Linked DNA regions of Homo sapiens. The protein of the gene in region 3 purifies or fractionates together with the protein of the main gene of each other region. This does not show direct contact. Each region holds a gene or a part of one and is shown on either strand. Other genes may lie near its edges. The genes, in order: ARB2A, NTSR1, ZXDB and FBLN5.

Evidence for each region.
Region 1: the proteins of ZXDB (region 3) and ARB2A purify together in Homo sapiens (affinity purification with mass spectrometry; one large-scale study listed by BioGRID and IntAct). This does not show direct contact.
Region 2: the proteins of ZXDB (region 3) and NTSR1 purify together in Homo sapiens (affinity purification with mass spectrometry; one large-scale study listed by BioGRID and IntAct). This does not show direct contact.
Region 4: the proteins of ZXDB (region 3) and FBLN5 purify together in Homo sapiens (affinity purification with mass spectrometry; one large-scale study listed by BioGRID and IntAct). This does not show direct contact.

The regions. Positions count from the first base shown.
Region 1 is NC_000005.10:93,622,108-93,625,675, forward strand, and holds part of ARB2A (cotranscriptional regulator ARB2A isoform 1 precursor), read right to left. Parts: intron 1-3,568. UniProt on the Homo sapiens protein: Plays a role in the regulation of alternative splicing, by interacting with AGO2 and CHD7. Seems to be required for stabilizing protein-protein interactions at the chromatin-spliceosome interface. May have hydrolase activity.
Region 2 is NC_000020.11:62,711,791-62,715,358, reverse strand, and holds part of NTSR1 (neurotensin receptor type 1), read right to left. Parts: intron 1-3,568. UniProt on the Homo sapiens protein: G-protein coupled receptor for the tridecapeptide neurotensin (NTS). Signaling is effected via G proteins that activate a phosphatidylinositol-calcium second messenger system.
Region 3 is NC_000023.11:57,590,571-57,594,850, reverse strand, and holds the start of ZXDB (zinc finger X-linked protein ZXDB), read right to left. Parts: upstream 2,841-4,280; 5' UTR 2,803-2,840; coding exon 391-2,802; 3' UTR 1-390. UniProt on the Homo sapiens protein: Cooperates with CIITA to promote transcription of MHC class I and MHC class II genes.
Region 4 is NC_000014.9:91,871,770-91,874,729, forward strand, and holds part of FBLN5 (fibulin-5 isoform 1 precursor), read right to left. Parts: intron 1,907-2,960; coding exon of another isoform or gene 1,728-1,906; intron 1-1,727. UniProt on the Homo sapiens protein: Essential for elastic fiber formation, is involved in the assembly of continuous elastin (ELN) polymer and promotes the interaction of microfibrils and ELN. Stabilizes and organizes elastic fibers in the skin, lung and vasculature.

The DNA.
Region 1 (3,568 bases), on a different chromosome or scaffold from region 3:
TAGCTATTTTTGACTCCCTGTGATGGCTTATGTAGCATTTTACCAGTGGCTTCATAAATGAGCACTTTTTAAAATTAAAAATTAAAATAATTACAGACTTCCACAGAAATAATGAGTGAATAGCTTTTAAACAGTTGAAATCTCTTCCTAGATCACTCAATTATGCAGAGAGATACCGCTTGGAAGTCTCCGGATTCAGGGCCTCAGTCTGATACTTTAACATTGTTAATGATAATTCTTTAGTCTGTAATAGTAGGTCATTGCTATGGTTACTCTACAATGGTGCAACACTTTGCTTTCCCCTTCAGCTATTCGCTGAGACCTGGTAACCACATTTGTTGCCTAGCAACAGTTTTGTGACAGTATCACAATCTAGGAGTTACAACAATAAGGATGCTATGGCTGCTGTCGGCCAGAGAGCAGAAAGCTACAGTCTGTGCCTGACTTAGCTGTGGGAGCTGGCCCTACTAGAGAACCCCTCTCTCTTTATCAGTGCCCTCCCAAGGATTCTCTCTATCCTCCTTTCCTCTGCAGACTGGCCTCATGAACTTGAATTTGAAACTAAGACCCAGTATTAAAGTCATATCCCCCAACTCAGACTAAAAATGAGGTCATTTTATTTGCTTACTCATTTTGGGCAAAATTCATTGTTACTCAATAGGAAGGAGGGATGAGTGTAGGTTTATCTTGTTAAATCCTAAAGTGCTAGGTGGATTTTGACAATTCTTCATAGAATTCTTGGGGGAAAATTATATATATATGCCTGCTTGCATCAATAGGTGTTATAATACATAACATCTAGATATTATTATATTTTTACTGATTTATTCAAATGACAATCTTAAAGGATTCTTTTGAATTTGGAGGCATTTATATTTTCCAAACCTAACTGAGCAGTTCTACATATGCTCAGACATACCTGCTTTAAATGATATTTGCGGGTAGATCTAGGAGGACCAGTTTCTGGATAGGGTTATCAAATGTGTGTCTCTATTCTATAGTGTTTGCAACCCTAGTTTCACTTCAGTAATAACTACACAGTTGCACTTATAATGGTAGGACATTTTAAAATCAATTGTAATTCATTTTGAAAGACCATTCTCAGATGCATACTACGTGGCAACACCCACCCCCAAATACAATAAGCCAAAAAAAAAAAAAAAGGTGTTAATTGTCTCTTTTCGTAACCATTTCCCAAGCTTACAGCCACATTTGGCATTTCCTCCATAGTGATCACACTTACACCTACTAGTGTTACTAAGGCTATGATCAATTTGTAAGCTTTCTCAGGGAATTCCCCTCATAATTCCTCCCACCCCTTGAAACCAATTCAATCTATGAATCTAGAGGGACCTAAGGAGTCAACGGTCTGAAGCAATTTTAACTCCTTTATTTCTTCTTTACGGGTAACAATCCTTCTGAAGGATGAACAGATTTCCCTGGTGATAAAATCACTACAAAAGCTTTTTAGTTTTAGCTTTTGATGACTCTCTGCTTGATTAGTCCTGGACTGAAAAGACCAGAGTCCCTGAGATAACTGAATACTTGTACTGGCTCTCAACATTTACTCTTGTAATTTAAGAGTATAAATAATGAGAATGTGTGCTTCTGTCAGACGAAGGGAAATTGCTAGGAGTAAAGGTAATAAGGTAGGTTAGCAACTGAATTACAGAGAATGGGGTGGAAGGGAGAGAATTCTCCCTAAACTAAGGAATGATAACATGAATATGTAATATAAAAATGTCTTTTCTAAATTTTTGGAAGTAGATTTTAAATGATTTTTAGAATACCATTCAGAAGTTGAATAATTACATGTCTAACTTGGACTGCATATATACATTTCAAGAATATGTTTGGAGACCATTTTCAAAAATTTAGGTCCAAAGTTCAGTGAAAATATTTACAGATGAATATGAAACTCTATCCATGACAATGTTCAGTGAATGGAAACTTTTGAGAGCAGGTTTCTAGTACTTAAAAAATACATCACTTTAGGGGACATTAAGTGGGATGCTTTTTATTACATCAGTACAGAAACACTAGACCATTACATTATTTGTTCATAAAAGGATATAAAAGGTAGAAGTTTAGGTCAATCAAAAAAGCAGCCATTTATTAATAAAATGCAATGATGTAGAAATCACAGGGAAACTAGTTTATTTAGCACTAACCTTGTCATTTGAAGGGGAAAAACATGGTTTTATGGTTAAGGTCTAGTCTTTTCACTACCACCACTTTACCCTTATCAGAAGTCTCTACTTTTCAAACCAATAATTTTCCTAATTTAGAGAGTTTCACAAAATATAAGGAGTAAAATGTTTTTCCACATTAAATATCTGCCAAGTTCTCAAGGAATGATTTTGGTATCATTTAGGAGTGGCAGGCTTGGTCTAACTGGATAATTCACCTTTGGAGTGAATTCAGTTTCCTAGTCTATAACATCAATTCAGTATAAAAGTAAAATGTAAAGGATCACAGCACTTCATTACAAAAAAATACCTTTGCTCAGTTTCAATCAGTGGTTCTTAATGGAGATGATAATGGCCTCTGGAGGCATTTTGGAAATTTGCAGGGATATTTTCGATGGTCAAGATGATTGGAAGGTGTTATTGGTATTTATTGGGAGAAGGACAGGGATAGTGGATATCCTGTAATTTGCAAGGCAGTACAGAATTGTTCTGCATCCCACATGATTTTCAAATGTTCAGCAGCTATTCATGTAGTTGAAAACCTGTTTATAATTATATGGATTAGAATTTAAATATGTTTTACAGATAATCTTAAAATACTTTTTGCATGATTTTAATATATACTGAATTTTCCAGGAATACAACTACCGTGTAAATCGAAAGGGTCATGCATTTTATGTTTTTCAGAGTCTTACCAAGAGTGGTTTACCCTATGAAAAAAATATCATAACTGATGGCACCATGCCCATGGTACTTGAGGTGCCAATAAGCATACCTGTATCAGCCCGCATCTGTAGCTGTCAAATTCATGATGATTCCATGCATAGGACCAAGTATCTGACTACTTTATTATGTCTTCTCATGTAGGTTTGCCTGAGCACTTTAAATATTGAAATCCATATTATTTTATTATGAATTACTTTTATTCCTTCTACATGTTAACTAGAGCATTACAAAGATTAACAATCTCGTAAGTAGGTAGATTATGTTATCTGTAGAATTTATTTCAGGACAGTAAAAGCACGGCATAATATTTGTTATAATAGTAGCTAATCAAAGGTCAGCTTAAATAAAAATGAATAATTATTTCTTACTATATTAGAGATTAATTCTTCCAATAATCTGAACCCTACTCTAGCTATCTCTCTTATCCTTGTACAGAGCAGAAAATACCTATTTTTCATTTTTCTTATGTTTCTTCCACAAATGCCATTTGTCAATGATGTTATTCATTGTGAAGTGACTAAAAGGCAGGGGATCGTCCAATGAAAATACTACCCTGAATATCCTTGACTTATCACTTGTTTTAAAAAATGAACTGTAGCAAATTTTAAAGGAGTGAAAATAGCAAAAGTGGTGAAAAAGATTAGAAACTCTAA
Region 2 (3,568 bases), on a different chromosome or scaffold from region 3:
TCTGGGAAACGGGGTTACGGGGTACAGAGGTGGACCCGCATGTCTGCACGTCCTCACCCTGCCGTCTCCCACCTGGCTCCAACAGGCAGGTCTGGTGCCTGGAACAAGGCCAAGGTCACCTCCCTGTCCTGCCCTCTCACCCCCCACAGCCTCAGAGTCACCATCTGAACGGTGATTTCATACGCCAAATTCTTTATTTCCAACATATAGCACCTTAACCTTTTGAAAACTTTTAATTACTAAATTTTTCAAACATGCCAAAAATGTCATCAACACTCACTTTCCATGATTACAGACTTAAGACCAATCTTGTCTCCTCTGTAGCCCTCCCACAGCCCCTTCCCCCAGATCACGCTTCAGTAAATCTGAGACATTGCATCATTTTGTCTGTAAACATTTCCGCATGTACCTCTAAGAGAGCAGGACCATTTTGAAAACCATACCCACAACAGCTCTGGACAACAAGAATTTGTAGCTATTCACTACCTAGGCTTTTTTGCTGTTTCTTGGCAGGAAGAATGATCAGCTTTGGTGCCGGCTTTCTGCGACAGGTTGACTTGTCCGAGTCTTTGCTAAGAAACCAGGCCACCGTCTCCGATTCCCTCACTGTTTGTAGAACAGAACGAGTTGTTTATTTGGAGCTGTTTCTTGTGGTCTGGGTTTTGCTGGCTGCATCCTAATGGTACATTTGTCCCTGTTCCTCTGTCCCTGGTGTGTCCTGTGTGTTGGATCAGGGGCTCCATGAGATTCAGATTCAATGGCTTTGCTCCAAGGATGCCACGAGGCTGTGTGCACACCAGGGCTCACCTCACACCTAACTCTCTCCCCTTCGTGACCCCAGCAGCTGTCAAGAATCCATGCCTACATCCATTGATTTATGAGGATTGCACCTGATGGGTGGTATTCTGACCATCCTGCTCCTTCTTCACTTATTGATGAACATTTCTGGGCTGAGACACTGCCTTTTATCTACTCTTGGGTTATTCTAAAGTACCGTTTGAATAGAAAAGGCAGGAAAAATACTCCATTCCTTTCCTCTAAAGGGTCATGGGCTCAGACTGGAGGAAGTGTGTGACTCTTGGCCCCACACCAACAGCCCTCTATGCCCTGCGCTGCAGGTGAGGACACTGTGGCCGCTACGGCCAGAGCCAGAGCTGCCCACAGCTGCGTGGCGTGGGTCCCCTTCCCGTCCTCACGGGAGGTCAGAGTGGAGCAGGCTGTTCCTAAGGACCCCTTGAAGAACTTCTTCTGCAACTTTTTTTTTCTTTGAGACAGTTGTCACCCAGGCTGGAGTGCAGTGGTGTGATCTTGGCTCACTGCAACCTCCGCCTCCCAAGCTCAAGCGATTCTCCTGCCTCAGCCTCCCAAGTAGCTGGGATTACAGGCATCCTTCACGACGCCCAGCTAATTTTTGTATTTTTAGTAGAGATGGGTTTTCGCCATGTTGGCCAGGCTGGGCTTGAACTCCTGACCTCAGGTGATCCGCCTGCCTCAGCCTCCCAAAGTGCTGGGATTACAGGTGTGAGCCACCACGCCCGGCCTTCTGCAACTTTCTAACTTGAAAAAGTTCCTACTGCAGAACAGTTGCAGGAAGAATGCCCAGGACACTCAGCTGCCTGTGGCAGGGCTGCAGCCCAATGCCGCATGACCCGCAAGCAGTCTCCTCCCTTGATTCACTGTCTGCTTGCTCTCCTTCCATTTGGCCACACCTTTCTTTCTGAATGATTTGAGAATAAGTTGCAGACTCCACACTCTAAACACCTCTGTATCCTTCCTAAGAACAAGGATGCTGCCTGTGGAGGTTGCTGGGCACAGCCTGGGGCACGGGACAGGAGCCCTGAAATAATCCATGGCCAGATTTCACTGGAACCTGTCTCCTTCCCTGTCTCAGCCGCCTCTCCTTTCCCGGAATTCTGCCAGCCCTGAACGGCTGGGGTGTTTGCCAAGTCGCCCTGTGATCTGTCTGCTCCTGGACGCCTCTGGAGCAGGGGTTGTAGGACACCAGCGCCTCCTGCACAAATTGAGGCCCCTGTCTGCCCCTGGGAGGGAGCAGGTGCCCTCTGAGTTGGGGTCTAACCCAGCGAAGAGCACTGCTGTTTGTACTCAATATGAAGAAGGCTTTCAGAAAAAACAAGGAGGAGGCAGGGAGGCTGAGCCTGCAGGAGCAGGACTCCCTTGGTGCAGAAAATGGCAATGATGAAAGGAGTCCTCACGGCTGCTCAGGAGGGTCTAATGGACTCGTGCCTGTGAGGCTGGGAGGGTTTGCTTTCGTGTGTGGCCATAGTCAGGGGCGGGTCTCTAAAACTGTTTCAAAGGCTGCAGCCACCTCATCTGATTTGAATCGGACACCTGAAGTCCCAGGCCCCTGCCACTGTGGGCCCCTGGACACACACATGTGTGCACACGTTCAGTATACACGCCATGGACAGATGACAGATAAGCATGGGACTCTGATGACCCACCATCTGGGCCATCAGCCCTGAGCCCTGCCACACAGATCGTGTGCCACTGGGACCCTGTCACAGCCGAGGTCAAAGCTGAGCTGGAGGTTGGGCCTGGGCCATGGGGGACCATCCAAGAAGCAAGGGCCATCTGCCCGTGTGGGGCCACGTGTGCGGGTGGGTTAGAGGATGGGTAGGACAGTCCAGGGGAACCCAGGGGCACCCGTAGGTCCCTGAGCCCCCAGCTCCTCCTCCCAGTCACCCTGCTGGCACCAGGGCCAGGTCTGGGGCCTTTGGGAGGGTCCTGGGCACCAGGTCCTGTCTGCTGACCTGAGAGCCCTGCCCACTCCACCATCAACTCCCAGTCCCAGCTACACACTAGGAAAATGCCCAGCTGGCTTCAGGGAGGATTATTGTAAGTTGCTCCAAAGTGTTATCACTGAACCACCTCATTTCTAAACACAATTTCTGTTTGCAAGTGCCCAGGCCAAAATTTCGTAGGAGACGCTGGGGCAGGAAAGGACCCCTGTTTTGGAAAGAGGGGCCATTTGATTGGCCACTGCCCCAACACTTCCAAACATGGTCACTGAGAGGGAGACACTTAGCTCAGGGTATCCAGCCCCTCTTCAGCCAGACATCACCATCTGAAAACCGTGGATGTTTGCCCAGATCTGCCAATGGCCCAGAAGCCCACGTGGGGACCGTAAACCCCCTAATTCCGGGGAAACCTTTCATAAAATGGCAAATGGCGGGGCAGGGGTCAGGGGAAGCCAAGGCCTCTCCTACGAGGAATGTTCTTTTCAAGCACACAGAGCAGCTGGCATCGGGGCCCTGGAAAGCCCCAGGTCATCAGCATCGGATGGAGGAGCACCCTTGTAATCAGCTGCTCCCAGGCACGCAGCTGAGCCCTTTAAAGAAAAATGGAAACTACGTTCTCCAAGGGTGCCTTCAGCAACGCTCGGCCAGCATGGCGTCTGCAGGGCGTGGGGCCGCTGTCCTACGGTTGATACGTCACAGGCCTCTGCGATTGGACGAGTGCCTGTGGCCGGCCGTAGCGTGACTTGGCCAAATCTGCCTCGCAGCCTCTGAGCAACAAGGCTGGGCAGGTGGTGCTTTGGGAGGCAAAG
Region 3 (4,280 bases):
TGCCAAAAAAAGAACATGTCAGGGCTGGGGGGGCAGTTAAAAAAAAACGCATGCCACATCACTGAAAAACGTCCTCATATTTTTCAAGGAAAGAAATGTATTATCAAGGAATCACAGAGCAGAAAGACCTTAAAAGCAATCTATTCAAACCACCTCAATTTATAAATAAGGAAATTAAGGCTCAGATAGGTTAACTGACTTGCTCAGGGTCACACAACTTGTCAGTTCCAAACTCAAGATCAGAATTTAAATCTCCAAACTTGTAGTCCAGGGCTGTGCTCTTTTTGCAAACCAAAAAGAAATGACTGCACTTAAATATTTAGTCCAGAATATCCTCAAAATTGACTGTAATAAAAGTAAGCCACATGATGAGGAATGAATAGAGTTGGTTCATACCAAAAATGAGCTGCCAGTCACAGTGATAAGATCTGTTTCTTTCTGAGAACCATGGTTTCCTGCTGCATTGGGGAATCCAAACTGGGTTTCTCCCTCCTGTCCAAAGAAGTCAGAGTCAGGATGTACGTTCCACTCCGCTTTGGTTGGTGTCAGTAGTTCTGAGACACTGTTTTCACAAAGGGTGCTCGAAGGAGTCAGAGCATCTGTGTCCACTGTTAGCTTACTGCTGGGTGTCAAAGCCTGAGGCTCTGGACTGGAGTTTTTCATGGCCAAAGAGTCCAGAGATCCCAATGGCCCCACACTTACACTTGAGACCTCATCCATATTTAAGGAGCTCTGCTGAAAACCAGTGGCCGCCGTTCCAAAAAAGAGAGAGGTATCCAGACTTTGAGGAGGGTCGCTGGTGGCCATCAAGGACGGAGGGTCCACAGCCTGCCCTACGGAATTATTATTATTAGCAGGGAGGTGCCCTGCCAGAGTCGAGCTCACAGAAGCCACATCAATAGTCAAGATTCCAGAGTTCACCAATGCTGTGTCCAGCAATGCAGCAGAAGTACTGTCAGGTACATCAGAGAAGAGAGACACTATCTCTGCATCACTGAGATCATTCTGTCTCTGGCTGGTAAGTTCACTGCTGGGTGTGAGAGAATTTGCTGCTTCTAGCTGAGCTAAGAGATCCTGGCCCACCTTATGCCTTTTAACCATGTGCGTCTTCATGCTGTGCTTGGATGTGAAGAGTTTATTACAAGAGGAGATCGGGCAACGGCTTTTCCAAGTGTCCACATCCTGCAGGTGTTTCTTGGAGTGAATGTAGAGGCTACTGCGAGCAGAGAACCTGGCACAGCAGCCTGCCACAGGACACACGAAAGGCTTTGTGCCCAGGTGGGTTATGCTGTGGCCTTTCAGATGTTCCGCCCTCGTGAAAGATTTCCCACAGCCTTCCACAGGGCACATGAACCTCCGGTCATCGTCGTGCTTTCTTTTGTGCCTTAAGAGTTTGGACATGCTAGTGAAGTTCCAGCCACAGCCATCAAAGTCACAAAGGAAAGGTCTCTCGCCGGTGTGACTCCGCAGGTGAATTTTCAGCCTACAAGCCTTGTCATATTGTTTGCTGCAGCCAGGAAAAGAGCAGGAAAACAGTTCCTGTTCCCTGAAATGGGCGCGGTTATGGGAAAACAGAGCACTCACTGTGATAAATGTCTTCTTGCAGCCAGAAAACGCGCACTGGTAAGGCCTCTCCGGTTCGAAGTGGCTGCGCTGGTGGGCGCTGAGTTTGGCCTGCGTGGGGAAGCTCTCCTCGCACACCTCGCATTTGAATGAGTTCTCCTGCTCATGGCCCTTCATGTGCGCCTTGAGGTTGTACACTGTGGTGAAGCTCTTGCCACAGCCCTCTGCCGGGCAGCCAAAGGGCCGCAGTTTGTCGTGCGACTGCAGGTGCCTCTTGAGCTTGTAAGAGGTGGTGAAGGTCCAGCCGCAGCCACCCAGGGGGCATTTGAAGGGCCTCTGGCCCTGGCTGCTGCTGTGCGTCAGCAGGTGCACCTTCAGCTGGTGCTTCTTGGCGAAGGTTTGCCCGCACTGCGCCTCGGGGCACAAGTACAGCACCACGCCTGGGCCGGAGCCCAGCGGTCCGCGGGGGCCCAGGGCGGCGGCCGGGCCCTCCGCCTCCTCCTCAGGCGCCGGAGCTGGCGCGGGTTCGGCCGGCTCAGCTAGCAGGAGGTCTGGCGGCAGCTCTGGGCAGTCACCCGGGTGCGCGGCATGCGGGAACCCAGCTTGCGGGGCGATCAGACACCCGGGCTGCTGGGCAGGAGCGGCCCCTGGCTCCCAGGCGTGTGGTGGGGGCGTGGCCAGGGTGAGGACGCCGTTCTCAAAGCGCAACAGCAGGTCCTGGTTGTGGATAGTGACTGTGCCCGCGAAGGCCGCGGCGGGGCCGGGGGCGGAGATCGGGGCCGGAGTGGGAACCGCGGACAGGCAGCGGGGGCCTAGCGCAGTGGGCCCCGCGGGATTCGCGCCGCTCTCGCCCCCCTGGAGCCCCGGGCCCTCCTCGGCCTCCTCCCTCAACACAGGCCCTGCGGCCTGACCGGAGCCCGCGGTCTCCACGTCGCCACCCACCGGGTCAAGCAGCACCAGGAAGAAGTCGTCGCCGCCGCCGCCGCCGCCGCCGCTAGGTTGATCGGTCCTCGGCGCCAACAGGCTTGGGCCAGGGCCCCGTGATGCCGTGCTGGCCTCCTCGCGCCGCCGCCCGGGCCCGCCATCTTGGGGGCCCCGGAGCAGCAGGAGGCGGCGCGTGGGGACCTGGCCAGCCGGCGAGTCAGGGCCTCGGTGGACTCGGCCGCCACCCGCGGGGATACCGCCGCCGCCGCCGCCCTGTAGTGTCCCGCGAGCCGGGAGCAGCTTCGGGATTTCCATCTCTGCGTCCGAGAGGCTCGGCTGGAACCAGAGCCGAGGAGGAGGCGCGATCCCGCCCCCTGCCGCGGGCCTGAACACGTTCCTGAAAGGGGAAAAAAAAATGTGCAATGCGCAGAAACTGGCCCTATCAGATATTAAAACGTATTTAACGCCACAGTGATTTAAATATTCTGGTACTGGGTCTCTGGAACAGAATAGAAAGCCCAGAGGTAGAGCCTGGTATGCATAAATACGTTCTACAGTTAATATAAGTAAGTAATTAAGGGGGTCTTCTGAGGTAATGGGGAAATGACGACAGCTTGTTCAGTAATGCTGTGGAACACCTAGGTATCTATCCGCTGGAAGCAATTTTAATCCATGACTCATTGTATATACCCAAATAAACACACCCCAGCCCCTCCCAGTGTTAGATATGTTGCTTCGTACTTTCTGTGTGTTAAAATTTGCTGGCTGGCTGGCTGGCTGGACTGATGGATGAAAGACAATTCCTGAGAGAAAAAACTGTCTCTGTGTCAGCATTAAACCACCATAGCGCTGGCAGTTCTGCTGAAAATGTCCTTCCCCTTCCCACCTCCCCGCGGGACAACTTCCATATTCACAATTATCTTGAGCAAAGTCTTCGGTACAATTTGCCGCATAGTTCAAATTTTGTCTTGCTGATACAGACATTAGAATGAGTGAGAGATGCGGCCAAAACAGGTTAGCACTCTTCAGCCTAGAAATTCAAAGTCTGGAGGATGAAACAATTTACACTGAAATCTGGAAAAAACCCAACCTTCTCCTGGCTTCTCCCTATACAGTGCACAACCTAAACCAACTTTTGCCCTTCCACCATCGGTTGTACTGTGATAAATTTCATGTCTGCTCTCACAGCACAATGAGGGCATTCATTCCTCAGTTTACTCTGCCTTCTCCAGCACGTGGAGGTCTCTGGGCAGGAGTTTCAGTTAAATGTGTTTAGGTTAAATCCTGAGTCACTGCAATGGATTCTGCCAAGTAAAAGGCACAGACGATCTTGTCCAATCAACCTGGTGTACCTGTTCACATTTAAGTGTGGTGGCCCAGGCTTGCTGGGCCTGTGGTGCCTAATGATCTTATTAATGATGATGACAATCCTTCATTTTGTCCGTTACGACTGAGTTGGGAATTGACACAAATATAGGGTGAAATATCTGAGATAAGAAAGCTTAGAGTAATGACTAGATTGGTGGTGGTGGGGGAGCGGGGTGTAACCTGTTGTTTAAATACTCCCAGCTCTCTCGCCCTCTTTTAATGACAGTGGACACTTGGTCTCTTGAAAATCAAGCTATTCATCCATAACTATTTGAACCTCATCAAAATGTCTACTCCACATACTTTTCTTTCTATTACTTTTTCTGGTGGAAGCATTTTTCAAATCTGAGGTATAGAAGAGTGCATAAAACATATTTGTATCGTTTAGATTATTTTACAAAAGCAGACACCTGTGTAACCAGGAC
Region 4 (2,960 bases), on a different chromosome or scaffold from region 3:
TTGCTTGAACCTGGGGGGCAGAGGTTGCAGTGAATAGAGATCGCACCACTATACTCCACCCTGGACAACGGCGAGACTCCAGCTAAAAAAAAAAAAAAAAATTCTCATAAAACCCTGAAAGGCCTTGCCACTCAAAGTGTGGTCCCTGGACCAGCAGCATGGGCATCACCAGGGAGCTTCTTATAAATGCAGAATCTCAGGGCTAGGATCTACTGAGCCAGAATCTGTGGCTTAACACAATCCCCAGGGCTTTGTGTGCACATTAAGTATTGAGAAATATTGATCTAAAAGCACAGGACCCAGGTGGGGGGGCCCTGGCTGTCCTTGTCTAAGTGCTGTATGAAAGGTATGACTCATTACTTCCCCGTTTTATAAGTAAGCAAACTGAGGTCCCATGAGGTTAAATAATTGCTTAGGGTTACCCAGCTAGTCTTGGGCAGAACCAAGGGCTTCCATTCAGGTATTTCTGACCCCAAGCCCCAGGCTTTTTTCACTGCACAGCAGGTATCAGAAGAGGCTGATGTGTGTTTCACTTCTTCCTAGCACCCACCTAATGAGAGATGCTCGCGGTCAGTGCAAGGGACAGATATTGGCACTGTTAGAGGAAACAGTGTGAAGAAGAAAAGGGATGGGCTGGACAATCACTTCCCATACACTGCAGAGCCCAGCCCTGTGCCCAGAAGCTGCAAGCAACAGTCTCTGCAAAATAAAGGAACCTAGCTGGTTTAAAGCTACACTAGATGTTTTATCTGTCTCCATAAAAGGAGGGCGCCCCATAAAGTTCTGAACATCCCCAAGAGCCACCACAAGTAAGACAAGGGTGGGGCTGGCAGACAGGTGCAGGCCAGGCGCTGGGACCTCCCCTATCCATGAGGCTATCGGCAGCCTGACAGCCACACAATTTCCTCTTGGCACTGGTTCCTCCTGTTCCCGTCAGCATCCACGTTATTGGCACCTCCTCACGCAGATTTCTTGGACTTCCTTGTCAGCCCTTACGAAACCTGAGCCCTGGGCCAGGGCTTCAGAGGGTAAAGCCACACAAGGAAATGCCTGCAGCCTTTACATATACAAATATCTCACCAGCTTTCACTGCGTGAACAAAGACCAAGAGTTGAGAACCCTGAGCTAGGGACAGCCCTCCAGAGGGAGATCTGCAGAGCCCAAGGTCTGGAAGGGAGAAGGGGGCAAGTGCAAACTTCCAAGTTGTTCCTTTGGGCTCTCCTGGTAAATGTCTCCTGAGTACGAAAGAATCCTCAACTATCCCATTTGAAATCCTAGACTCTCCCATTTGGAAGTAACTGCAGAAGCTGGTGAGTCCGGCCTCCACCTGGGTCCACCCTACCCACAAGCACCTGGAAGAGCTCAAGTACCTGCCACAAGAGCTGAGGACAGCCACCTCCACATTCGGCTTTTAGGGCAGAGCCAGGGCATTAATGAAATAAACCCCTGAGAGCCCGTGGGCATTAGTAGGCTTGGTGGTGCGAAAAGATGAGGAGGAGGAGGATGGTGGCGACAGTGATGACGGTGGTGGTTATGATGCCAGGCATCTGGCTACAACCTTTCCTACACCTCTTAATTAATCTTCACAACCCTATGCTCTAAGTAGGTTAGGGATACTACATAAGGCCACCAAACTACTGCATGGTACTAGACTTTATGGCTCCAAAAATCATGCTTCTAACCACTACACTCTCTGATAAGGTCTCTGTACCTCTCCATTTACTCACCATCCCATGGGTCTTGACTTGACTTGAGAATCGCCACTTTGTGTTGTGTTTGCTAGGTTGTTTTCCCCCTCTCCGCTAAGGTGTGTGTGGGTTCCTCCAGGGCAGAGACCACATCCTGTTTGTTTCTCAACGCTCAGTGCCTGACTTGAAGCCTCATATGCAGTGGTGCTGAATGCACGCTGGTAACGGAAGAATGCACACGAATGACTGAACGCCAGTGGACTTGACCACGCTGGGAGTCGGCTGCCAACAGCCCACCAGCTGTGTGTCTTCTTGGCCCTGATCCCAAACACACTCAGGTTTATTCTAATCAACTTGTGGGATGGCATGGTCTGACCTGTGGCAAGCAGCCACGCTGTAGCAGGCCAGCTTCCATGGGCCCTGTCACTTGATCCACGTGTGTCATGGAGTAAGTGCACTTTGGCACAGTCTGAACCCCATGACCTTGCTCCTTCTTCTGGCCCTAATTATGACCCCCAAGCCACCTGGCCAAAGCCAATCATCAGTCCTCTTTCTAGGGCTCAGTGAGAGACAGGCAGCCAATAAGGCTTATGAATGGGCTTGTGTGTGTGTGTACACGTACGCATGTGGGCATAAGTGTGTGCATGTGTGCATGCAAGTGTGTGTGTGTGGTTTGCCTGCGGGGTGAGATGAAGCTCCTCCCATGTGGTTATAATCAAATCAATGAATCTCAGGGTGTGAGAGCCTGGATGGCCATCCAGCCCCACCTCCCACACGATGCTCCAGTCCCCTGGGTAGCATTCCCAAGCTCTCCATGGCCCAGCAGCTCCCAGCCTCCTTGCAGCAGTAGCAGCAACAGTAGCAGTGGCCACAACAGTATCTATACAATCATAACTGCTATTTCTGGAATACTTTCTATTGTAACTGGATGTTAGACTTTTCTTGTGATCTCCATTTCATCTGAGACCCCAAAGCTGGAAGAGTAGGTAAAGCATACCTCCCCATTCTGAAGAAAAGTATAACAGCACAGATTTTTGGTGCCAGGCTGCTTAGGTTCAAATCCTGCCCTGGTGCTTATTAGTTGTGAGACTAGTCGGGCAGGTTGCTTAGCTCTGTGCCTCAGTGCTCTCATCTGTAAAATCTGGACGATAAAACCATCCTATATCATAGGATTCTTGTGAAGATTAAAGGGTTACTGTATAGAAAGCACTTAGAATAGTGTCTGGCACATACAGGCACTATACACGGCTTGCTGCTGATGCTGTGTGTGGA